Homo sapiens: one gene and its partners. The protein of the gene in region 3 interacts with the protein of the main gene of each other region in a biochemical or structural test. Each region holds a gene or a part of one and is shown on either strand. Other genes may lie near its edges. The genes, in order: NEDD4, SMURF1, UBE2D3 and SIAH2.

The links.
Region 1: the proteins of UBE2D3 (region 3) and NEDD4 form a complex in vitro, tested with the Homo sapiens proteins (17 studies listed by BioGRID and IntAct, with this or other methods).
Region 2: the proteins of UBE2D3 (region 3) and SMURF1 form a complex in vitro, tested with the Homo sapiens proteins (15 studies listed by BioGRID, with this or other methods).
Region 4: the proteins of UBE2D3 (region 3) and SIAH2 form a complex in vitro, tested with the Homo sapiens proteins (5 studies listed by BioGRID).

Annotation. Positions count from the first base shown.
Region 1 is NC_000015.10:55,983,588-55,990,628, reverse strand, and holds part of NEDD4 (E3 ubiquitin-protein ligase NEDD4), read left to right. Parts: intron 1-7,041. UniProt on the Homo sapiens protein: E3 ubiquitin-protein ligase which accepts ubiquitin from an E2 ubiquitin-conjugating enzyme in the form of a thioester and then directly transfers the ubiquitin to targeted substrates. Specifically ubiquitinates 'Lys-63' in target proteins.
Region 2 is NC_000007.14:99,134,075-99,141,115, reverse strand, and holds part of SMURF1 (E3 ubiquitin-protein ligase SMURF1), read left to right. Parts: intron 1-7,041. UniProt on the Homo sapiens protein: E3 ubiquitin-protein ligase that acts as a negative regulator of BMP signaling pathway. Mediates ubiquitination and degradation of SMAD1 and SMAD5, 2 receptor-regulated SMADs specific for the BMP pathway.
Region 3 is NC_000004.12:102,793,870-102,796,579, forward strand, and holds the end of UBE2D3 (ubiquitin-conjugating enzyme E2 D3), read right to left. Parts: 3' UTR 514-2,710; downstream 1-513. UniProt on the Homo sapiens protein: Accepts ubiquitin from the E1 complex and catalyzes its covalent attachment to other proteins. In vitro catalyzes 'Lys-11'-, as well as 'Lys-48'-linked polyubiquitination.
Region 4 is NC_000003.12:150,760,164-150,767,232, reverse strand, and holds the start of SIAH2 (E3 ubiquitin-protein ligase SIAH2), read left to right. Parts: upstream 1-4,063; 5' UTR 4,064-4,383; coding exon 4,384-4,800; intron 4,801-4,825; exon of another isoform or gene 4,826-4,896; intron 4,897-5,057; exon of another isoform or gene 5,058-5,296; intron 5,297-7,069. UniProt on the Homo sapiens protein: E3 ubiquitin-protein ligase that mediates ubiquitination and subsequent proteasomal degradation of target proteins.

The DNA of each region.
Region 1 (7,041 bases), on a different chromosome or scaffold from region 3:
AGATTTGCAGAGTGGAAATGAGGTGGAGCATATTGTTTTGTTTCTTTGGCTTTTTCTGCTGATAAGCACAGTCATGTAAACATCTAAATTTTCTGCGAAAGTATTCCAGTATCTGGTAACTTGCTTTGTACATATTGATAGGAAGTCACCGAAGTAGTGGTGGTAGTGGCTTCCAGACGTCAAGATTGATTATATTCTTGAAGTCATCAGTTCTGGTGATGACTCCTGATCATCTACCTTTCTGACTGGGAGAGGTAGTAGCTTCCTGGATGGGTCAGTTCTGCCATGTTTCTGATCTTCTAGAACTGCAGTCCCCAACTGTTTTGGCACCAGGGACCGGTTTCATGGAAGATAGTTTTTCCATGGACCGGGGATGCGGTCCAGTGGTTTCAGGATGATTCAAGCACATTACATGTATGGTGCACTCTACTTCTATTATGATTACATTGTGATATGTAATGAAGTAATTATACAGCTCACCGTAATGTAGAATTAGTGGGAGCCCTGAGCTTGTTTTCCTGCAACTAGATGGTCCCAAGTGTGGGTGACGGTAATGGGAGACAGGGAGACAGTGACAAATCATCAGGCATTAGATTCTTATAAGGGGTACACAACCTAGATCGCTTGCATGGACAGTTCACAATAGGGTTCATGCTCTTATGAGAATCTAATGCCGCTGCTGATCTGACAGGCAGCAGAGCTCCGGAGGTAATGTGATCGGTGAGGAGTGGCTGTAAATACAGATGAAGCTTTGCTCACTGGCCTGCCACTCACCTCCTGCTGTGTGGCTGGTTCCTAAGGTTGGGGACCCCTGCTCTAGAAGTCCAGCCTAGCACCTACTCTTCCAGCTCTTCCAAAAATTTTGTAAGCATCTAATCCCCTGTATTAGCTTCTTTCTTCTTAAAGCATCTAGAATGATTTCTGTTTCCTATAAGAAAGGCTGACTGAAGCAAGGAAAAGAAGGAAGGAAATAAAGAGGAAAGAGTTCAGAGTCTCCGCTATCGGTATGGAGAGTGCAGTTTGCACATACAGAATAATAGATGCCCCTGGTGGCAGCAGCCACAACAGTGCATAAGTAGCAGGGTAAGAAGGGCATATTCTGATACTTCTGGACCCACTAAGGCTGAGCAGAAACTGACCCTTACTCAGTCTGGGAACAAACTTCCCAAACCTTTATGTACTACACACAAAGGAGGAGAAGCATAGGTTAAGCAGCAGCTGTATTAGTAATTTCTCCCAATCTTTCATGTATTGTTTTTGCCATTAGTGCTTTTTTGCAACTCTTTAATTCCAGGATCATTGTAAAGTATTTTTCATGGAGCAGGGACTAAAGAAGTGAATAAATATAGTGTATTTTTAAAATAATTTATTTTTAAATTATGTATTTACTTTTGAGACGGAGTCTTGCTCTGTCACACAGGCTGGAGTGCAATGGCGTGATCTCAGCTCACTGCACCCTCTGCCTACCAGGTTCCAGCGATTTTCCTGCATCACCCTCCAGGGTAGCTGGGATTATAGGCACGCACCACCACGCCCAGCTAATTTTTGTATTTTTGGTAGAGATGGGGTTTTACCATGTTGGCCAGGCTGGTCTCGAACTCCTGACCTCAGATGATCCGCCTGCCTCGGCCTTCCAAAGTGCTGGGATTATAGGCGTGAGGCACCGCGCCCGTCCTATTTTAAAATTATTTTAAACCATCAGAAAAGTTGAAAGTACAACACAAAGAGCTCCAGTATTCTTCTCATACAGATTCTGCAACTGTTAACCTTTTCACTGCAATTGTTCCATCACCTTTTTTTGCCATTTTCATTAATCTTTTTCTGAACCACTTGAGAGCAAGCTGCAGACACAATGCCCCATCATCTTTAAATACTCTAGTGTGTATTTTTCTAAAACAAGAATACTTTCCTGCATAACAACCATACCCCCTTCCAAGCTAGGAAATGGACACTGATACAACAATGCCATTCAATCCACAGATACCATCCAAATTTTGATAAATGTTACTAATAATTTCTCTTTTTCCTTTTCTGGTCTAAGAACCTATCTGGGAACATATATTGCTTTTACGTGGCATGTCTTTGCAGTCTCTTCTAATCTGTAACATTTCCTCAGTTTTTCTTTTTTTTTTTTTTTTTTTAATTTTTTTTTTTATTATACTCTAAGTTTTAGTGTACATGTGCACATTGCGCAGGTTAGTTACATATGTATACATGTGCCATGCTGGTGTGCTGCACCCACTAACGTGTCATCTAGCATTAGGTATATCTCCCAATGCTATCCCTCCCCCCTCCCCCGACCCCACCACAGTCCCCAGAGTGTGATATTCCCCTTCCTGTGTCCAAGTGATCTCATTGTTCAATTCCCACCTATGAGTGAGAATATGCGGTGTTTGGTTTTTTGTTCTTGCGATAGTTTACTGAGAATGATGGTTTCCAATTTCATCCATGTCCCTACAAAGGACATGAACTCATCATTTTTTATGGCTGCATAGTATTCCATGGTGTATATGTGCCACATTTTCTTAATCCAGTCTATCATTGTTGGACATTTGGGTTGGTTCCAAGTCTTTGCTATTGTGAATAGTGCCGCAATAAACATACGTGTGCAATGACTTTCTTCACAGAATTGGAAAAAACTACTTTAAAGTTCATATGGAACCAAAAAAGAGCCCGCATCGCCAAGTCAATCCTAAGCCAAAAGAACAAAGCTGGAGGCATCACACTACCTGACTTCAAACTATACTACAAGGCTACAGTAACCAAAACAGCATGGTACTGGTACCAAAACAGAGATATAGATCAATGGAACAGAACAGAGCCCTCAGAAATAATGCCACATATCTACAACTATCTGATCTTTGACAAACCTGAGAAAAACAAGCAATGGGGAAAGGATTCCCTATTTAATAAATGGTGCTGGGAAAACTGGCTAGCCATATGTAGAAAGCTGAAACTGGATCCCTTCCTTACACCTTATACAAAAATCAATTCAAGATGGATTAAAGATTTAAACGTTAGACCTAAAACCATAAAAACCCTAGAAGAAAACCTAGGCATTACCATTCAGGACATAGGCGTGGGCAAGGACTTCATGTCCAAAACACCAAAAGCAATGGCAACAAAAGCCAAAATTGACAAATGGGATCTAATTAAACTAAAGAGCTTCTGCACAGCAAAAGAAACTACCATCAGAGTGAACAGGCAACCTACAACATGGGAGAAAATTTTCGCAACCTACTCATCTGACAAAGGGCTAATATCCAGAATCTACAATGAACTCAAACAAATTTACAAGAAAAAAACAAACAACCCCATCAAAAAGTGGGCGAAGGACATGAACAGACACTTCTCAAAAGAAGACATTTATGCAGCCAAAAAACACATGAAGAAATGCTCATCATCACTGGCCATCAGAGAAATGCAAATCAAAACCACTATGAGATATCATCTCACACCAGTTAGAATGGCAATCATTAAAAAGTCAGGAAACAACAGGTGCTGGAGAGGATGTGGAGAAATAGGAACACTTTTACACTGTTGGTGGGACTGTAAACTAGTTCAACCATTGTGGAAGTCAGTGTGGCGATTCCTCAGGGATCTAGAACTAGAAATACCATTTGACCCAGCCATCCCATTACTGGGTATATACCCAAAGGACTATAAATCATGCTGCTATAAAGACACATGCACAGTTTTTCTTATCCTAGACAGTTTTAAGAAGGACAGGCCTTGGCCGGGCGCGGTGGCTCACGCCTGTAATCCCAGCACTTTGGGAGGCCGAGACGGGTGGATCACGAGGTCGGGAGATTGAGACTATCCTGGCTAACATGGTGAAACCCCATCTCCACTAAAAATACAAAAAAAAAAAATTAGCCGGGTGTGGTGGTGGGTGCCTGTAGTCCCAGCTACTCGGGAGGCTGAGGCCGGAGAATGGCGTGAACCTGGGAGGCAGAGCTTGCAATGAGTCAAGATCATGCCACTGCACTCCAGCCTCGGCGACGGAGCGAGACTCCGTCTCACAAAAAAAAAAAAAAAAAAAAAAAAAGCAAGGACAGGCCTTACATCCTACGATGTTTCTCATTTTGGGTCTGTTTGGGTCTGTTTAGTGTTTCTTGATGACCATGTTCAGGTCACGCTCTCTTGGCAGGAATCATAGAAATGATGCTGTGTTCTTCGCATGCATCACACCAGGGGACACATGATGCTGACTTGTCCCAACACTGTCAGTGACCTTAATCACTTGGTCACCTTGGTGTCTGCCAGGTTTCTTCTCTGTAATGTCACCTTTTTTCTCTTTATAATTGATAGTATTTTCAGGGGACATATCGTAAGATTATGCCAATATCCTATTTCTCGTCAAGTCTTCATCCTCAGTTTTAGCATCCATTGATGAATTCTATCTGAACCAAACACCACTATTTTGTTTTATTTCCATCTCTGTTAGTTGGCATTCTATGTAAGAAGAGCTTTCCTTTTCCTGTCATTTATTTATATCAGCATAGACTTGTAAAATCCCACTTTATTCAGCAGGTTGTAATCAGTTACTGTCATTAAATATTTTATTGCTCATACTGTCCCAGTTTGTCCAGTGGGAGCCCTTTCAAGGAGGTTCCTAGGTCTTCGTAACAAGTCCCCATCATTCTTTGAACACTTTCTGGCAGAAGTTGTTCCAGGCTTCTCTTGTATTTTGCTTGGCTCAGCTATCTACAATCAGCCATTTTCCCTAGAAGCACTGGTCCTATTTAGTATAAAATGGTTTTTACATGCTACAATTTGGGTACTTGGTGTGCTCATTGTTACTGGGATATACTCTTGGACCATCTCTGAACAGTTAAGCGTGTGTGTGTGTGTGTGTGTGTGTGTGTATGTGTACTCTACACACATATATAAGTATACACAAAGATCTATAGCTATTTCTATATCAATCTGTAAATACATAAATTTAAAAATCATGAATTCATACTGATTTTTTCCAATTCAAACCTAATACCTGAGTTCCTTTATAGCCATAAGTACCTTTTCTAACAGTGAAAAAATTTGACTTTTATTATCCTTAATATATTTGTTCATTGACTTATGTGTTCAGTGTAACTAACTTCCTGACCACGCAGACATCTCCTCTGCCACTTCAGCTCTTCACATCCTTGGATGCCAGTGGGAATATTGCTATTCTCTATGCAGCATCCCTGTGCAACGCCGTCCTCCCCTCCTCAGTACCCTTGCCAGTGGGCACCCTTCTGATGCATCTCTGTATGGTATCTCCCTCCTCCCCTCAGTGCCCCGTGCTGGCGAGCATGCCAACCATGCACCTCTGTGAAATTCACCCTCACTCCACAGACATTTTCTGTAGTGGCCTGTGATTGACTGCTCTGCGCCAGGAACAGAAAAGGAGAAGGAACTATAATTTCTTTTATAGGTAATTAGGAATTCATATATCACATAGGAGTAGAATCTTTGAGCTGGAAGAGACCTTGTAAATAAATCATTTAGGGTGAGCAGGGGTATAGAAAATGGGATTCTTTTGTGTTGGAATTCTGGCCCTGTCACTTACTTGGTGAATCTTGCATAATTAAACATCAGTCAGAGCAGGATATTTAAGTCTGCTGATTCTCCCATCCCCTTGCTGTCTCAGAAATATTCTATAGCATTTGGAGACATGCAGGAACCAGTTGAACACAATTGCTTCTCAATCTATCATGGTTATCTACTCCAGAGCTGAATCTTTAAGTCAGATAGCTGATTTGAATTGCTGAACCCATTGTTCTGCTGAATTCTGTGGCAATTGATGTTACTTCTTCTTTAGGACTTCTATTTCTTCTGGCCTCCTTGCCAATAGTATCAAAGTTTAAGAGGATAAATGAATGGGGAGGGGATAGGAGAAGTCTGGAGATAAATGCAGGGAGAAAGGCACAGCACAAACAAAAAGCATTTTGATAAGGCTTTTCTGAAAGTTGAGTAAATATGTCTGTAGCCCATTATTATAACTCATGGCTGGACTCAAATGTCTGGCTTCAACTGATGCGAGACATGTTGGGGCAATGAAGAGAGTAATATGAACAAACAATCATGGCCGTCAATAAAGATGCTTTAGTGAAAGTATTCTCCTTTGGGAAAAAGAGTCAACCTAAATAAATAGCAACTGCCTTTAACTGAATACCCACTCTGTGCCAGGCACCAGGTTAGATTTTTTCATACTTTAGCTGTAATCATCACAACATTATTGCAGAAGTAGGAAGTATTACCCCCATTTTAGAGATAAGGAATATGAGATTCTGATTTGTTCAAGAACCTTCTCCCAGTAGGGAGAAGTGTTATATTCATAACAAACACTTGGTCCTTCCACTTTCCTGCTACTAATACGCAAATAAAATAATTTAACAGAAGAGACTTTTTCTCAGGAATATGATGAATGTGAATGGAATGTGTGCAAAATTAACTTGTAATTGTTATGCTCTCATTTCCACATCTTCTGTCTTTTCTTGATAAAGCTTTTAGGTGGACCTCTGAAGTACTTGATTTCTGTATTTGCTTAACAAATATTTGATGAACACTATGTATCAGGCACGTGGGTCAGGGCATGAGGTATAATGATATAGAATATACTTTACCGATTTTATAGCCAAGAGGGAGAGAGAAACATTAAATAAATTATCACACATCAATATTTTATAAGTGTTATTAAGGAAAACAGTGTAAGATGAAAGTATTTATAACAGGCTGGGCGCAGTGGCTCACACCTGTAATCCCAGCACTTTCGGAGGCTGAGATGGGTGGATCACTTGAGGTCAGGAGTTCGAGACCAGCCTGGCCAACATGGTGAAACCCTGTCTCTACCAAAAATACAAAAATTAGCCAGGCATGGTAGCATATACCTGTAGTCTCAGGTACTTGAGAGGCTGAGGCAGGAAAATTGTTTGAATCGGGAGGTGGGGGTTGCAGTGAACCGAGACTGCGCCACTGCACTCCAGTCTGGGCAACAGAAGAACACTCTGTCTCAAAAAAAAAAAAAAAAGTATATCTAAAAATTAATTAATTTTA
Region 2 (7,041 bases), on a different chromosome or scaffold from region 3:
ACCTTTTCCCTTTCCCTTTCCCTTTCAGTAGATGTTATGAATGGTTTGAGAGGATTTGTGAGTGTGATCATCCTTACAATAGGATTGCGGTTTAGCGGTAATGGTACACATGCAATGCCAGTACGTGGAACCTTAGTTTACCTCGAAAGGTTTGAACTAGAAGTTTGTTGACGGTGGAATAGGTTTTAGTCTCATCTTTCTGGTTAAGGGAAGTTTGAATTCTCACTTCTGGGATGTTGAGAAGCAATCTTTCAAAATTTGAATACTTTTGTTACAGGTTTCAGAGTTTATTTCCATGTTTGTTATTTGGAAAAAAAAAAAAGACTGTTAAAAATGAGGGATATTTCAACCAGTCAATGAATAGACACAGAGCGAAATTCAGTGCAAAGATAGTGAAGATGGCCTGGCGCCGTGGCTCACGCCTGAATCCCAGCACTTTGGGAGGCTGAGGCAGATCACGAGGTCAGGAGGTTGAGACCATCCTGGCTAACACGGTGAAACCCCGTCTCTACTAGAAATACAAAAAATTAGCTGGGCGCGGTGGCTCACACCTGTAATCTCAGCACTTTGGGAGGCTGAGGTGGGGCGGATCACGAGGTCAGGAGATTGAGACCATCCTGACTAACACAGTGAAACCTCGTCTCTAGTAGAAATACAAAAAATTAGCTGGGTGTGGTGGCGGGCGCCTGTAGTCCCAGCTACTGGGTAGGCTGAGGCAGGAGAATGGCTTGAACCTGGGAGGTGGAGCTTGCAGTGAACCGAGATTGTGCCACTGCACTTCAGCCTGGGCAACAGAGTGAGACTCTGTCTCAAAAAAAAAAAAAAAAAAAAAAAGGATACTGAAGATACTACATTTAGAACTTTGGGGTCCACGATTCTATTTGGGGGTGAATAGGGCATTAGATTTACAGTTAGGAGACCTAGATTCTAGACAGATTTCTCATTAACTACATGTTACGGAACAAGTTATTTAACCTTTTTGGGTCTCAGTTTCTTTATATATCAAATGAGATTTCAGCTCCATTATAATACTCTTTGATCCTCCTTCTCACAGGATATATCAATTTAGCTACCTACTTATTTCAAATTACTGTTGGGCACTTGGGCTTAGTGGTATTCTTAATCCTGATATTCAGAAAATTGTGTTGGAGTGTAGCACATGTGTTTGATTTATGCCAAGCATTAATTTTGTGTATTGATTACATTTATGACTTTATTTCTTCATGTGGGATTGTTTTTGAAAACTGTTGGGTAATATGTTGAACTGCTTTGGCAACCTGGTCTAAACAGTAGAAGAATATTTGAGCCTTTGTATTTAAAATAATAACATTTTAACGAATGTTTTTGTGGTATTTTAGTAGGAAAATAGTTTTTAAATGGTTTCAGTAGGTTTAGGGGCATAATATATCCAGAATCAAGTGATCTTTTGTTAAAGAGCATTATCTTGTAGTCATTGGAGTTCACTGGCAAATCAAACACTTTAGAAACATTTTGATTGAAAAATCAAGCAGGATTTGCAAAAACTTTGTTCTTATCTGGTACACAAATGAATCCCAGACACATTGTTTAGGCCACTTTGGGTAAAAGAATGGAATTCAGGGTTCTACAATGCTCTTCAAGAAAATTAAATTTTATTGTAATGTCAACCAATTAGTTGAAATACAAGTGCCTAAACTTTTTTGTGCTTTTATGCATTGAAATACTCTCAGATATCCTGGTGTTTTTATATCTTTTGGAGCATGACTGCATATTGTGAAGTAAGAAAAACTCTAATTCCAAACAGAGAGGAACAAAGAGACTTTCCTTGATAGCATGTGGAAATATGAGGTTGTTTTTAAAATTGTAGCTTGTGGGATGTAAGGGTGACTTGTGTTTTGGCATTCAGATGGTGCAACTGTGAGTGAAATAGTTGTGGTAATAGCTGTTGATGATGTTGGTTGATGAATTACAGGTGTCTCAATTGATTCAAAATAGTTAAGTCTCTCAAGAAAGATTAAGAAAATTGTTAAGACTGTTGACTTTGTCAATTTGTACCAGCTAAGAACCTCACTTATGTGAGGCAGGCAAAACTTTTGTTTCAAAAACCATATAACACAGTTGCTGTGATAAGATGGAATAAGTGGTCAGTTTTTAGCTCCCTTTGCATTTACATTTTCCTTAGGGTCTGCCTCAAGTTTAGGAAGATACAGTTAAGGCAGTTCTTTGAGATGAATTATTGGAAGGTGTAGGATGGGTTAGAACAAATGCTGTTGCAAAACTTGAATTGCAATTATACTTTAAGAAGAATCACATTCTGCCAAATAGAGGTTTTTGTCATTGATTTTGTGATTTGATCACATTTGTGTTGCCTTTTAGAACAACTTTCTTTTTTCAAATCCATTTTTTTTTCCTTTTAATCTTCTTGGCCCACCCAACTGACTTTAGACATGAAATCTTTCATATGCTTTATTTCTATCTCCATTTTTACAGTAGTTGTGATTTATCAAACTAGGATTTTTAACTTCAAGTCCATCTGTCAGAGTTTAAAACCTCTAGTCTTGCAGTTACAAAAGTCCTTTCTGAATGTTGGGTTTTTCTTTCTCTTCCACACATTTTCATTTTCTCGGTTCAGTCACAATGTCAGGTTCTAGTGTGGAAAATTGGGTGAAAGAAAGGTTTTGGAGGCTGTGTTATTTATGAAATATTTCCTCATGGATTAAGAAAGAAAAAAAGACAAAACGACAAATAGTGTTTCAATATCACCTCAGTGATCCAGTTAACTAGACTGGCTGTTTTGTACAACATCGTGGGCACTGGTTAACAGTTAAAATAGCTGAATTGTGCGTTTTATTCAGTGGTTCAAAAAAGCCTCAAATGGATGAAATAACTTGATATCTTCGCCATGCTCTGATTTGCTGGGTAAGACAGCTAACTTTTAGGATGCTTATTTGGATCAATTTTTTATAATTTCAAAACCATTTTAGAGGCTAATTTTTTTTTAAACAAGGAATATACAATTTTTTTTTTTTGTCACTGAACAAGTTTTAAATTACTGGTTTGTTATTTTGTAAGTGAATTTGTAAGTGAAAGCCTCCAACTTAAATTAGCTTCTTGTCCAGGGAACTCATTCTGACTGACTAAAGTCCCTAAGGCCTTTCTAGTTAAAGGAAAGCCATGGAGCTATGTTTAAAAAACAAAAGCACATAGCTATGGGGCTTGGGCATATCTTCTTTTTAAAATGTCACTATTACTGTTTTGTCTCCAGATGCAATTTAATCCATTTAGATATTTAAACCAAGTGGAATGTTGTTTCCACATTTCTGGACTAATGGGGGAAAAAACACCCTCATATTGTTTTAAAACAAGGCTTAAATAATGTATAATCAGCGCGTCTGGTGACGCGCCCCACTCTGTAATTCCAGCTGTGTTCACCTCCACTGCAGCTGAAAGGAATTCTAATTGGCTGAGGAATGTCGGCAACATCGTTTATCACTGAGCAGGAACCTATCCTCCTGGCTGCTGGGTGATGCATTTCAGATGTTTTAAGCTCCGGAGCCCAACTTGCAGCTTGCTTTCAGGAGTCTGGAGGAGCATGTCACGAAGCTGCAGATTGTAGATGGCAGCCTGCGTTCTTTGTATGTTGGGCATCCGCTGAGTTCTCTAAAGGGCATGATGCTTTCCTGTGGTTCCAACACTGGACTGGGGATCAGAAGGTCTGAATTTGATTTCTAATTCACACAAGTACCACAATGAAGAAAGGGGAGGGGGTGCATAGGATTATGATCTTTTCATGATTCAGTTTTCCTATCTTTAATGCCAGAGATCTGTCTTTTTAGAGCACAAAAGGACCTGCTAGAGATGGATTAAATATTTTAATGAGTAGTTATGAATTATTTATAGAGTAGCACAGTATTAATACAGTCATAGATTCCTGTTATGTCTTATTCCTAAATAGCCAGGTAAATAATAAAGCTAATAACGTACTTTGACATTGAAGAAAATCTATAGAACCGGTTAATAAACATGGAAAAATAATACAATGAATTGATAAATTATGTATTCAGAAATTCCTTAGAGAAATAGTGTTAGAAGCCAAAACCAGTATTATCTTTATTTTTATTTTATGTTTTTCCCAGGCCAGGTAATGTGCCATCGGACAGTATCATGTTTATTTTTTGTTTTGTTTGGAGATGGGGTCTCACTCTGTTACCCAGACTGGGGTGCAGTGGCACCATAACAGCTCACTGCAGCCTCGACTTCTTGGGCTCCAGTGATCCTCCCACCTCAGCCTCCCGAGTAGCTGAGACCACAGGCATGTGCCACCACGGCTGGCTAATCATTGTAGTTTTGGTAGAGATGGGGTTTCGCCCTGTTGCCCGGCTGGTCTTGAATTCCTGAGCTCAAGCAATCCACCTGCCTCAGCCTCCCAAAGTACGTGGATTACAGGCATGAGCCACTGCACCTAGCCAGCATCATCTTTAAATGATGAAATTGTGGAAACATTCCCATTAAAATCAGGAACAATGCAGGGATGTACACTGTCAAAATAGTTATTATTAATAACTAGAGAAAGACATCAGAAAGCAGGAAACAAAATTGCTGTTATTTATAGACGTTATGATATATCTTTAAAAGCCCAAAAGATCAGCTGAAAAACACTTATAAACAATAAAAAACTTTAGCTGGATGGAAAATTTCTCCATGGCAAAAAATAGGATAAAATCAACATGCAAAGACAAACTAGGAACAACAATCTGTAATGGATACGAAAATGAAAGTCTGGTTTTCCTAATATATAAAGAGCCTTCAAAATCAATTAGGAAAAGGCCAGTACCTAATAGGCAAAGAATATGGACAATTCACAGAAAAGAAAATGGAAATGGATTTGAAACATGTGAAAAGACAACCCTATTTTCTCTCTTCTTCTTTCCTTTTCTTCTTTAGAGATGGGGTCTTGCTCTGTCGCCCAGGCTAGGCTAGAGTACACTGGCGTGATCATAGCTCACTGCAGCCTGGAACTCCTGGGCTCAAGCGATCATCAGCTTCCTGAGTAGCTGGGACTGCAAGTATATGCCGCTGTGCCCTGTTCTCTCTTATGCCCATTTTCTTTCTCTAAAAATTTATTTTTAATTGATAATCAGCCCTATTCATACTAAACAAACTACAAATTAAAAGTAAGAATGAAACAATTTTTCATCTAGAAGAGTGGCAGATCAAAGAGATTGAAAATCTTCTGTGATGAGACAAGAGTGTGGAAAAACAGGTCTTTTACTCTAGTGGTTGAGAATATAAATTGATAGAGTAGGTACCAAGAGCAGTTTGGCACTGTCTATCAGATCATAAATGTTTATGCTCTTTGATCTAGCAATTCTGCATGTAGGACTTTTTTCTTATGGGTGTTTTCACACATTTATGTAAAGTCCGGTGTGTAAAATCATTGCAGCATTGTTTGAAATTATAAAAGACTGAAATCAATGTGAATGTGTATCAGCAGGGACTAGTTAAGTAAATTATCGTGTATTCCCAATGATGTGTAGCTGTAACATAATAAGATAGTGTTTTATATTCTGATATGGAACATTCTCCAAGATATATTATTGAGTGGGGGGAAAAAGCATGATTCAAAACAGAGGCTAGTGTGTGTACTATTTGAATAATAAAACAAGAAATAAAAATAAAGGGGGAAATCTATAGATAGGTCTGTATAGAATACGACTGAAAGATTTTGACTGTTGATTTCCTTTGAAGAGATTCTCCTGTTCTCCTCTTCAGAGGAAAGAGAGAGGAGAGAGGGAGAGAGGAGAGAAAAGAGAGAAGAGAGGGTGACTTTTCATTATATGCCTTTTGTAATATTTAATCTCCTCCCTTTTCTCACCCCCTTGAGCATGTATTGCTTTTCAACAATTAAAAAGATTAAAAAGCTCTTAAATAGATAAGAATTTCTTAGAGCAACTAGTAAGTACACTAACTGCCAATTGTTTTGAAATGTAGACATTCTGAAAAATCAAAATGATTGTGCCGAATGTATTTTAAAAGGCTAAAATATTATAGCATTTCAAAGTACATACTCATATTTATAAGGACTTCCTCACTAGGAAGATTCCTGGGTTCTACAGAATAAAATTCTTGGCTACTTGTCTTATAGCTCTGAACAGACTTATTTTCCCAGAGAGTATGTTTATTATGTAATAGCGAGTTGCCTGACCCCCCAAAAAGCTTGTTCTATCATATTAAAATAAGGCAAAATGATTACTTTCAGATTAAGAAATTTGGACTCTAGATCTTGTTTATATAGTGAGTTCTTTAAAAAACTGAGGTCTTGGTTCTGAATAATAGTGGTTTACATAATTTATTTAGAATGTCATTTGGGGTTATCTCTGACCTATTTTTATAAAATAATCTCATCTTTAAAATAGGAGTAAAATGCTCATTTGCATAAGCCAGTAATAATAATTTAGTATTTTTCCAAGTATTTATAGTCAATGTGTTTGCCATGAACTTTTTTAAGGGATTGTTTTTAATTTTAGAAGTGCTTTAAAAAGCAATATTGGCATCTGGCTCTGTAGAAGTAGAAAACATGGTAACTTCAATGTGATATATTTGCTTTTTTCCCCTCTTAGGTCTTTGGGGTAAAAAAAATCCAAAGTTTACTCAATTTTATTTCTACATATATTACCTACAAATTATAGAGGTGAGACCTGCTTGCTGCCTGTTCATACCTGTCAGTGATACTAATACCTCCCGTCTGTACAGTGTTTCATAGTTTCCAAAGGGTTCTCGCGTGGTTCCTCACTTGAGCCTGGTGAGGAAATACCTGTAAACATGGGTAGAAGTTTTAGTCCCTTGTAAAACTCTGGTATAATATCAAAACCAGGAAATTGTTCACAGATTCTAAGGATTGGGGAAAAGAGAAAAATAAACAAATTGCTCAGGAGTAGAATTTGCAAAAAAAAACGAAACAAAACCAAAAAACTCTGGAAATAAGGCACGTTTAGCCTTACAGAGCGAGACCCTGTCTCAAAAAAAAAAAAAAAAAAAAGTGGGTGGAGAAGCACTTTTCCT
Region 3 (2,710 bases):
CCAGTATGGTTATTCAAATTAGCCAACTGTAGGACGTTAATGTATTTTAATATTCCAAGTGTAAATGTGGAAATCAATGTACTGTATTACAATTCAAAGTACTAGGAAATTGTCAGGTATCAGAAACGTAATACTTAAACACATTCTCTAAAGCCAAAAACAGCTATAAAAAAATAGCTGTAGAGTCAAAGGATTACTGGTTGTAGTCTGTTACAAGGGAATGCTACGAACAGACTTCTGAAAACGGTTCTCAATCTTCACTATTCATCAGAATCACTTGGAGGGTGTTTTAATATAGGTGACTGGGCTCCATGCCAGTTTGACTCAGGACTGGGATGGGGCCTGACAACTTATATTACAAAGAATTTCCTAAATGATGCTGAGATTGTTATCTCAAGAAACATTTTGAGAACCACCTTATTCATAAACTGTATAAAATTAAAAATCGAGCTCACACACATTAAGCTCAAGTGTGGATTTCATGTTAGCTGGAATTACCGAGTAAGACCAAAGTGTCTTTAAACACAGACTTTAATGGTAACAATTCCTTTAAGCTCAATTAACTTCAGCTATTACAAGTCTTATGCAGATGTCACTATTAGACAATATTTAGTGACTTGCACTGGGTTCCTCATAAAAGACAAATTCACTTAAAAGTGTAATCAACAATCATTAACAGTTTTGTTATGCCAACACAAAACATGGCTGAGTTACCCCCCTCCCCGCCCAAATTACTAACACAGCATGATCAGTACCTTAAGTATACTTCAACTAAGCCATTTCAACAAACAAAAAAAAACAAACAAAAAAAAAAGTGAGTGTTTCACTACCCCTGAGACCACTAGTTAACTGTGGTTCATACTTTAAAATGTGAGTACACCCACACAAGAAAGCAAATTAATCAGTTTTAAAAAATCTGATTATCACATTGCAAACTCGCCCAGGAAAAACAAACTGAGTCATTTAAAATGTAAATTTACCATTAACAGGCCAACTGGACCCTAATTCGGTTTATGCATTAAAAGATTTAGGAAATACAAAGACATAGTCAAAACTGATTCTAATACTCAGTTGGGTCCTATACATGGCACTAGTAATGTCAAATTACTGGGTGGAGTGGGGCAAAGAGGGCAAATTCTTAGATTCTTTTAAGATTTCATTGTACATATCTCATGTCCAGTGTCCATACATTCAAAAATGTTGGTTTTCCAGGTACTTTACTGTTCTTTTAAACCTGGAGAAGCCTCTATGGCTTATTCCCTTAGAAGCAACAAATGAAATGATGTATAAAGCATCAAGTCAAAGATACAGAGAACTGGACACATCCACTAATTGTTATGACAATCAAAGAAGTCATCTCCGTAAATACCTAAGGGTTGTCTAAGGCTATAAAGGTCAATTTGAAAGCCAGTTAGGGATCCACCGTGTTTCATAAAAGTGTCTTACACTCATGTTTGGCTTTCAAGAAGTGATATGCCTACTAAAGCTGTTATTTTGAGACTATATGCATCTCAGAAGTAATTTTGAAAATAGAGCCAAAGAGCAGTTTTTCTTACCTTGTGGAGCAGAATGTTAACTAATTTCTCATTCATAATTTGAATCCAAAAAAGTTATGCAGTATGACATCTACCCTGAAGGAGCCGTTTTAAGCAAAACACAAAATGAAAAAATTCACTCATTGGAAAAACTGCGTAGCTGGTTTTTTCCCCAATGAAATGATTACAGAATTAACAAAGCCAGAACATCTTCAGAAGGCATGCATTTCACTTCCAGTTTAGAGAAGAACCTTAAGTCAATAAATCATGTCCAAACTACATATTAAAATGTTTATAAAAAGTAAGTTTTAACATTTATTTCTAGCTTTCCACATGTGTGTGCAGACAAGGAATAAGATTGCACGTAAGTGTAAGCAGTGCAAAAATGTGGAAGTGGAGGAGTCACAGATGTGCTAGAACTTTAAGAAATAAAGCAGTGAACAAAATCAAAATAAACAGGAAAAATGTAAAACTATGGGATCAGAATTAGGAAAGGTGAAGAATGGTAATGCCCTTGTTACTACAGAAGTTAAATCAGTGGCACAGATAGCACTTGTCAAACAAAAAACAATCCAATAGCATTGACTTTTATTCATTCATGTTAAGTCACCTGAAATGATATCTGTTGCATTTAAATGCTCATTAATGTAAATGGCTGAACAAATCCATTTCAATGGATACTCAATATCCCACATAGATAAGTCACTTCAACACAGCCTCATGACAACTCCCACACCAAAACAGTACTTTATTTTGCAAATTTTGACCCATTATTACTCCCATGTTGTTTTTTTTCAGCTGTCAAGTGTACAAGGTGAAGAGAAATTTCAGTTAGACAGGGGCTGCACCTGGAAAATAAATTTCTTAAACTCCATAAACACATTTCAAAACTGCTGGGTCCCAAAAGTCCATCTATGAACTCTAGGGCTGCCAGTATCATGTGCAGCACATTAAAGCTACACTATCCAAATAGCTTATTAATTCTGCATAAATCAGGTCAAGCAATGTGTCAACCTGTAACAGACTGTGCACTTTAACTGAACATGGCAAAATATTCACTCTTTCGAACTTTACATCATCATTTGATGTCAAACAATGAAGCAAATCCCAACAGTATATACAAAAAACAGCTTTGCATTTACAAAAGATTGTTTCCCATACTGATTAATCCAGGC
Region 4 (7,069 bases), on a different chromosome or scaffold from region 3:
ATCTACCCTATAAAAGACATTGTGAGAATTAAGAGAATTAAAATATGTAAAGTACTTGGAACACTCCCTGGTACAGGGTGAGCACTAATTAGCTAAGTGTGGATACAAAAATAATGCAAATACATAGAACTGCTCTTAGTACACAGTGCTAAGTCCATGATGGTTGTTCAAAAAAATGCTTGAATTAGGAGTACTTGAGTATAGGAGTTTGAGGCCAGCCTCGGCAACACAGTGAGACCTCTTCTCTACAAAAACTAAAAAACTAGCAGGGCGTGATGGCACGTGCCTGTAGTCCCAGCTACTCAGGAGGATCCTTTGAGCCTGGGAGGTTGAGGCTGCAGTCAGCCATGATCCAGCCACTGCATTAAGCCTAGGTGACAGAGTGAGACCCTGTCTCAAAAAAAAAAAAAAAGATTTGAATTAAGAGACCTACAATTATTCAAAAGAAGTTTGAGCATTTGGAAATTACCCCAGAAACAGATGAAGTTAAAAGTTCCTACTATAATTACCAGGGGGCCTTACATCACCTCCAGATTTCCCACAAGCTTCCCCTGATGAGGAATTTCCATGCAGCAAGCTCCAATGCATACCTGAGTCATCTCTAAAAAGCCAACCACAATTTGCTCTGCAAATGCACATTTGCCTGATGGCAGAAGTTGCCTGATTTGCAAAACCACACAATTTGTAAGTTACAGAAAAAAGGGCAAGAGCTTGTCTGCCTAGCTGGAGCATTTCTCACTGTGCTCAGCAGTTTAGTGAAATTAGGAACTCACCTGTGAGGTGTTTTTTTTAAGACTCACCCTGCTATTTTAAGGAAAGAAAAGGCTACTCAGTACACCCCTAGTCTTTCAAGCTTAGCATAGAGCAGATGGGTTAAGGAGAGGTGTCCTGCTTGACATATGCAATCTGGGACTCAGTAGGTGGGCGAATGAGACCAACCTCTCATACAGTAGATGTGGTAAATGAGTCATGAATCAGGAGATAACAAAAGGCTGGACCCTGCTCCCCCAGACCACAAAGTCACTCACTAAACAGGCCAAGAAGCAGCAGCGACACTCCAAAGGGTAAATAAACCTCCCAACAACTCAACTCAGCACACATTTTGAGTACACGCTAAATTCGACCTCTGAGCGGACTGCCCGCTGGAAGAGGAGGCTCTAGCTCATAGTGCCCGGTATGCAAAGGTCACCTTTCTTTGTTTCAAAAGTCACCAAGGAAGGAGGAAGAAGAAAGGCGACTGGGAAGACCAGCCTGGTCATTGATGTGGCTCACATAGCAGACCTATCCACTCTCCCCCTGCCTACCTTCAGCAACTGCCCAGAGTTTTTTTGTTTTGCTTTTGTATTTTAATTACCCTGGTTGACTTAATCAGGTGTGCAATGATGTGAAGGAGGAAGAAAGAAGAAATTTCTCTATACCAGGGGAGGCATCTGCCAGGGTAAGAGTGGATGGGTTCGCTGTATTTTTAGAAAAATAAACCAAATTCTCTCTGCAGAGAATTGCTTTTCCTGTTATTTCTTTCAACACCTCCCAAACCAAATTGTTTTCTGAATGACCAGGGCCTATCTAGCTGGAACACTTAAAGCTCGTGTCAATGGGGCAAGGGTGAGGACTCCAGTCTCCTAATGAGAGCTAGTAAGAAGCCGTGGGGATGGAGGTCATCACACAGAGAGGCTAGAAGTGGAAGGAAAGAAAATGTGTTCCATTAATAAATTCCAAATGCTTTGATTTTAAATTAAGAATGAAAAATATTACATTTCCTCCAATAACAGTAAAACAGTAGGTGATTTTTGTGTTATCACTTATATTTTGTGTCATAAAAAGGTGAAAATGAAATAAATAGAACATGATTTAATTTTTCTCTCTAGACCAGCTAAGGAAAGAGTTTATGTAAAGTTTGCCCACAAAATTTAGTGCTTTATTATAGGCTGAACAACTGTTTTCTGACTCTGTTGAGTGTGCTAATCTTAACTGTTTAACAAGACTGTAAGTAGGAATCAGGCATAATTTAGAGGCATACAGACTAGTAGTTAAGAAGGGCTCCTAGCGTGTTCCCACATTCTCAGCTGTGTGATCTTGAGCAAAGTAACCTATGTCTCGGTTTCCTCAACTGTAAAATGGAGATAACAGTAGTATTCATCACAGAGAGTTATGATAAATACTTAAAACTATCCATGCCCAACATACAGTGGGCACTCAATTAACATTAGTTATTATTTTATGCTCCCTACCTATCCAAAAACTCAGGTTCAGCCATGTTACTAAAGAGCTTCCAAAAACCTACAAAACCTAGTGTTGTTGTGTGTTCTTAAAAAAACAAACAAAACCCTACAGTGGTTTACCCCTATCATTGAGGTAAATGTCTTATTAAGCCAGTTGAGGCTCCCCTTGTGCTAACGCCACACCCCTACACTCCCGTTATATCCCCTCCAAGTCCCAATGCAATCCCAGAATACATGCTTTCACTCTGTGCTTTTTAGCTCCTGCTATAATGCCTGCCCACCCCGTGGTATCTGAAATCCTTCTTCTCCCACGAGTGCTTGGTTATTGGGCCTTGCTCTCTTACTAGAATGTAAACTGCATGAGAACCATTCTCAGAGCTCCAACAGTAGCTGACACATGATAAATGCTCAGGAAACATTTACTGAACGATTGAATACACCTATTAAGTTTTTTCAAGATTTATACCAAATTCCATCAATTCCATGCATGTATTCTTTCTACAGAAGCCCTTTGTAAGATTAAACTTTATTTCTTCTGGGCTCTTACGCCATATTTCTTGGACAAATTGTATTCATTCATTTTAAACATCCACTAATATTTTTAAAAGATAAGAGCTAATGTTTAAACAGTGCTTATGATGGGCGAGGTTGTTTTAAAAGCTTGAAATATATTAAACTCATTTACTCCTCACTGCCCCACCTATAAGATAGGTATTTTTTTTTCCACTTTTACAGTTGGAGGGAACCATTTTTCACTCAGTCCTAACAGTTGGTCCTTACCTCTGTGTCTCCTATAAATTTCCGATTTCTACCTAAGGTAACCCTTTCCCCAATTCCGGAATCGTTGGCTCAAGCAAAGTCTGCAGAAAAACAATTTTAACTCGGAGCACACAGTTACATTTGGACATGCGGTTCACCCCGGGCAACCGTGCCCTCTAGCGCTTCTGCTGGGCGCGCAGGGTGGCCCTACGCCTCGCAACAAAGACTCGGACTTCGGCCGGCTCTCTACCAAGCGGACGCAGCGCCTTACACTGGAGTTTCACCCACTGTCTTCAGAGACCTCACGACCCAACCTACGTTTCTGACATTTCTAGATGATCTCGAACTCTTAGCCAACGCTGCCCATGAGCTCCCTCCTCGGCCTGCTATACGAGCCAGGGGCGCTCAATTCAACGAAGCTTCCTCCTGGTCCGCTGGGAAAGGAATAAAGGGAGCTTACATCCTCCCCACCGCCCCCCTCTTTACTCAACCCCACCGTTAACTGTACAAAACTAGGTCCTGTGCCCGCTGCAGACCCAACTCGAGCCCCTCGCCCTGCTCCCACCCAATGCTTCTCGTCCTGACTCCGAACACAGAACGCGGGTGGCCGCTTCGCCCTCTTCTCCTGCGTGCTGGTGACTCAGCCCTGAGAAGAGAAACCTCTCGGTTTTTTCCGACTAGTGCAGGGGCGCCCGCGCCCCGCCCCTGCCCGCCCGCGTCCGGTCCCACCCACCGTCCACGCTCCCGCCCCGCCTGAAGTTGCCTTTCTCGTTTGAGCTGAGGGACGCGTCAGCCAGGCACCCCGGGGTGTGGCCAGAGGACTTCGGCGACGCTTCCCCGAGAGTAGCCCCCCTCCTCAACCCAGAAAAGACAACCCCGCGGGGCTGCAGCGAGCCAGGCATGCTCACTGGCGCAGGCCCGGCCCGCAGCCCGAGCAGGAAGCGCCGGCGCTAGGCGGCCCCCTGCGCTGCCAGCTGGAGCCGGGCGGAGCCAGCGCCCCGGCGCAGGGTGGCTCTGCCAGTCCCCGCGCGCCTGGGCGGCCGCACACGTGTCCAGGCGTCACGTCCGCGCGCGCCCCCGGGGCTTGCGTCAGCGGCTGTTCCAGAAGCGGGTGGGCCAGGGCTCTGCGCACCGCTGGGGTTCGGGGCCCGGGACGCCGCCGGGAGGAGGGCACCGCGCGGGGTCCGACGCGGAGGCGTGCTCGGAACGCCGGGGGCTGCGGAGTGCATCAGCGCGGTCCAGCCCTCCGCCTGCCGGGCGCCGAGCGTCTCCGCCGCCCGGACCTGGGCTGGGCGCCGTGGCGTTGCCTCGGAGCTCGCTGCCCGCGGGGCGCGCACCGCCTTGACCCGGGCGGCCCCGCGGCAGGCAGGCGCCCGCAGTTCCATGGTTGGTTCGGAGCGCGATGAGCCGCCCGTCCTCCACCGGCCCCAGCGCTAATAAACCCTGCAGCAAGCAGCCGCCGCCGCAGCCCCAGCACACTCCGTCCCCGGCTGCGCCCCCGGCCGCCGCCACCATCTCGGCTGCGGGCCCCGGCTCGTCCGCGGTGCCCGCCGCGGCGGCGGTGATCTCGGGCCCCGGCGGCGGCGGCGGGGCCGGCCCGGTGTCCCCGCAGCACCACGAGCTGACCTCGCTCTTCGAGTGTCCGGTCTGCTTTGACTATGTCCTGCCTCCTATTCTGCAGTGCCAGGCCGGGCACCTGGTGTGTAACCAATGCCGCCAGAAGTTGAGCTGCTGCCCGACGTGCAGGGGCGCCCTGACGCCCAGCATCAGGAACCTGGCTATGGAGAAGGTGGCCTCGGCAGTCCTGTTTCCCTGTAAGGTAAGCCCAGGGACAGCCCACGTACCTCCGCCGGTGACCTCAGGGACTCCGGTATCCGCCAGCCCACTCGCAGGCCCGGAGAGGCGGGCGGCATCTCTCATTTAAAAAAAAAAAAGAAAAAATGTTTACACTTCGTCCACCCTCCCTCAAGCCCACTTTGGGTGTAGGTCTGGGTTGACATTTACCGAGTAATAATTGTTAATAGACAATTAACAGATTAATTGGCATTTGCTGATCGTTAGAACATCGTAGCTCACCCGGCCCAATGCCCGCGTCCTCTGCAGACGTGTATTCGGGTACTCTCGGTAGGGCTGGGCCGCACCAGTAAAACTTGGACCGAGAAACTGACTGTGTGGGGATTGAGGAGGGAGGAAACGGGCGAGCTAAACGCCCCCTTTACCAGCGCTGGGCTCGGCTGAATTGATAATTGGAGTCCTGCACCCCGCGCCTACCGTCTGCGCACCCCTGACACGTGGGAGCTCTCGGGATTGTAGCTAAAAAAAGGGCGCCTACAGCCTGTTTTCCTCTAGCTAGAAGAAAACCCTGCAAGCCACGCCTTTTTCTCTCCTAGCCTTCCAAAGACTGGGAAGGACTGAGGAGTTGTGGCTGCGTTGTTGTACTAAGTGGGGTGAAAACAGTCAATCAAGAAATTAACAAGGGCACTCAAGAGCTGTTGTTACAGTTGTTTAAAGCTCATCACTTCATTTTTTATTTAATGTAAAAAGTTTTCAATGCCCTTGCGAAAAATGCAAGCCACCAAGACAAGAAGTAAAATGAAAGACCAAGATCTCTCCCCTCCTTTCCCACCATTGTTAGGTTTAGTGTGTATCTTTTTAAACTATATATACATACACCCTCGCAGCTAAATATAGAATCATAGATGTCAGTGTATGTCAGGGAGGTTTTTTAATACCCACACATAGATGTAAGTTTTTCTCCAAAAATGGCATCTGCAACTTGCTGTTCTTAAATTCATATTATCACACATATTTCTCTATGCCTGAAACCTAGTCGACTTCATTGTATTTTAAATGGCTGCATAGTATTGCATTGTGTGGTCATATTATAACATTTGTTTACCTGCAGCTATTACGTGGAAACCTTCAGGAGCAGTTTCACAGACATACTTGTCTACGTTATAACCTAGAAGTATACTGTAAAGTCATTTTCTGAAATTAGAAGTGGAGATAATGTCACTAATACTTTCCAGTTTTTTTGTAAAAGTAACTTGCGCTGCCTCTTGGGCCATTTAAGCTGTCTTGCATTTCTCCTTGGTGCTGCTTATTTTATAGGACAAGAGCTCATTTTTAAATTAAAAATAATCCACCAGAGAATTCAGGCTTGGGACTCAGGTCAGTAAAATGAGTGCTTTAATTTGGTCTGCTGCCCTGCTGCAAATCAGGTTTAAAATAGCATATTTAAATAAGAGTTTGAATCGGTGTTTGGACTAGGGTGTTTCAGGCAACCTTAATAAATTGCTGTTAACCCCTCCTCATATAGTGCTTACTAATTCACTCAGCCCAGTTTCTCAAAATTTAGATAAAGTATTTGCATAGTTGTCTTAGGGTTGTGAAAAAGGTGACAACCTAGTGGTTGGAAAAGGTTTGGTGGTAGTTAACATAGAGTGGCTATTTGATGCTTGAGATATATTGCAGGGGTGGGGGATGCCCCATAGGATTTCTGGGGAGCCATTTTCTCACCCCTTTACTTTCCCTTAAACGCGCAGCGGCTAACAAAAGAAATGGCTTTTAGGTGAGTTTTAGTTCACAAATGAGCATTTGATATTAGTCAGTAATCCATAATTTGTTTTTAAAATGTAACCATAATAGAATTGTGTTGTTCCCAAGAGAAAGGGAAGGAAACAGTTATGCTATATGGAGCATGAAGTTTCACTTTCAGGATCTAGAACTCTGGTTCCTATGAAAGCATACGTTCTTTCCTAACGTGAAACAGGCTACTGAAATCAACCTTGAAGAGTAGTTCTGGGAATCAGGGGTTCTCAGCCTTTCTGTACATGTCAGTGGTTTTCTGAGTCTCTATTCTATAAGAATGCAGTGGGGTAAAGCTATTACTTTGCAAGCTGAAATTTAAAAGGGCCAATTATTCCCCTGCAGACCAAGAACCAAGCTTAGGATGTGATCTTGGGGATGCTTTTGTGTGTGCATGTGTGTGAGTTGTATAAAGCTGGGGTGTGTGTCCCTCACCTTTGGTTGATCAATAATCCAAACTATTGGCAGGGCAGCTCAGCCAGTTAGTCTGGATAAACCAA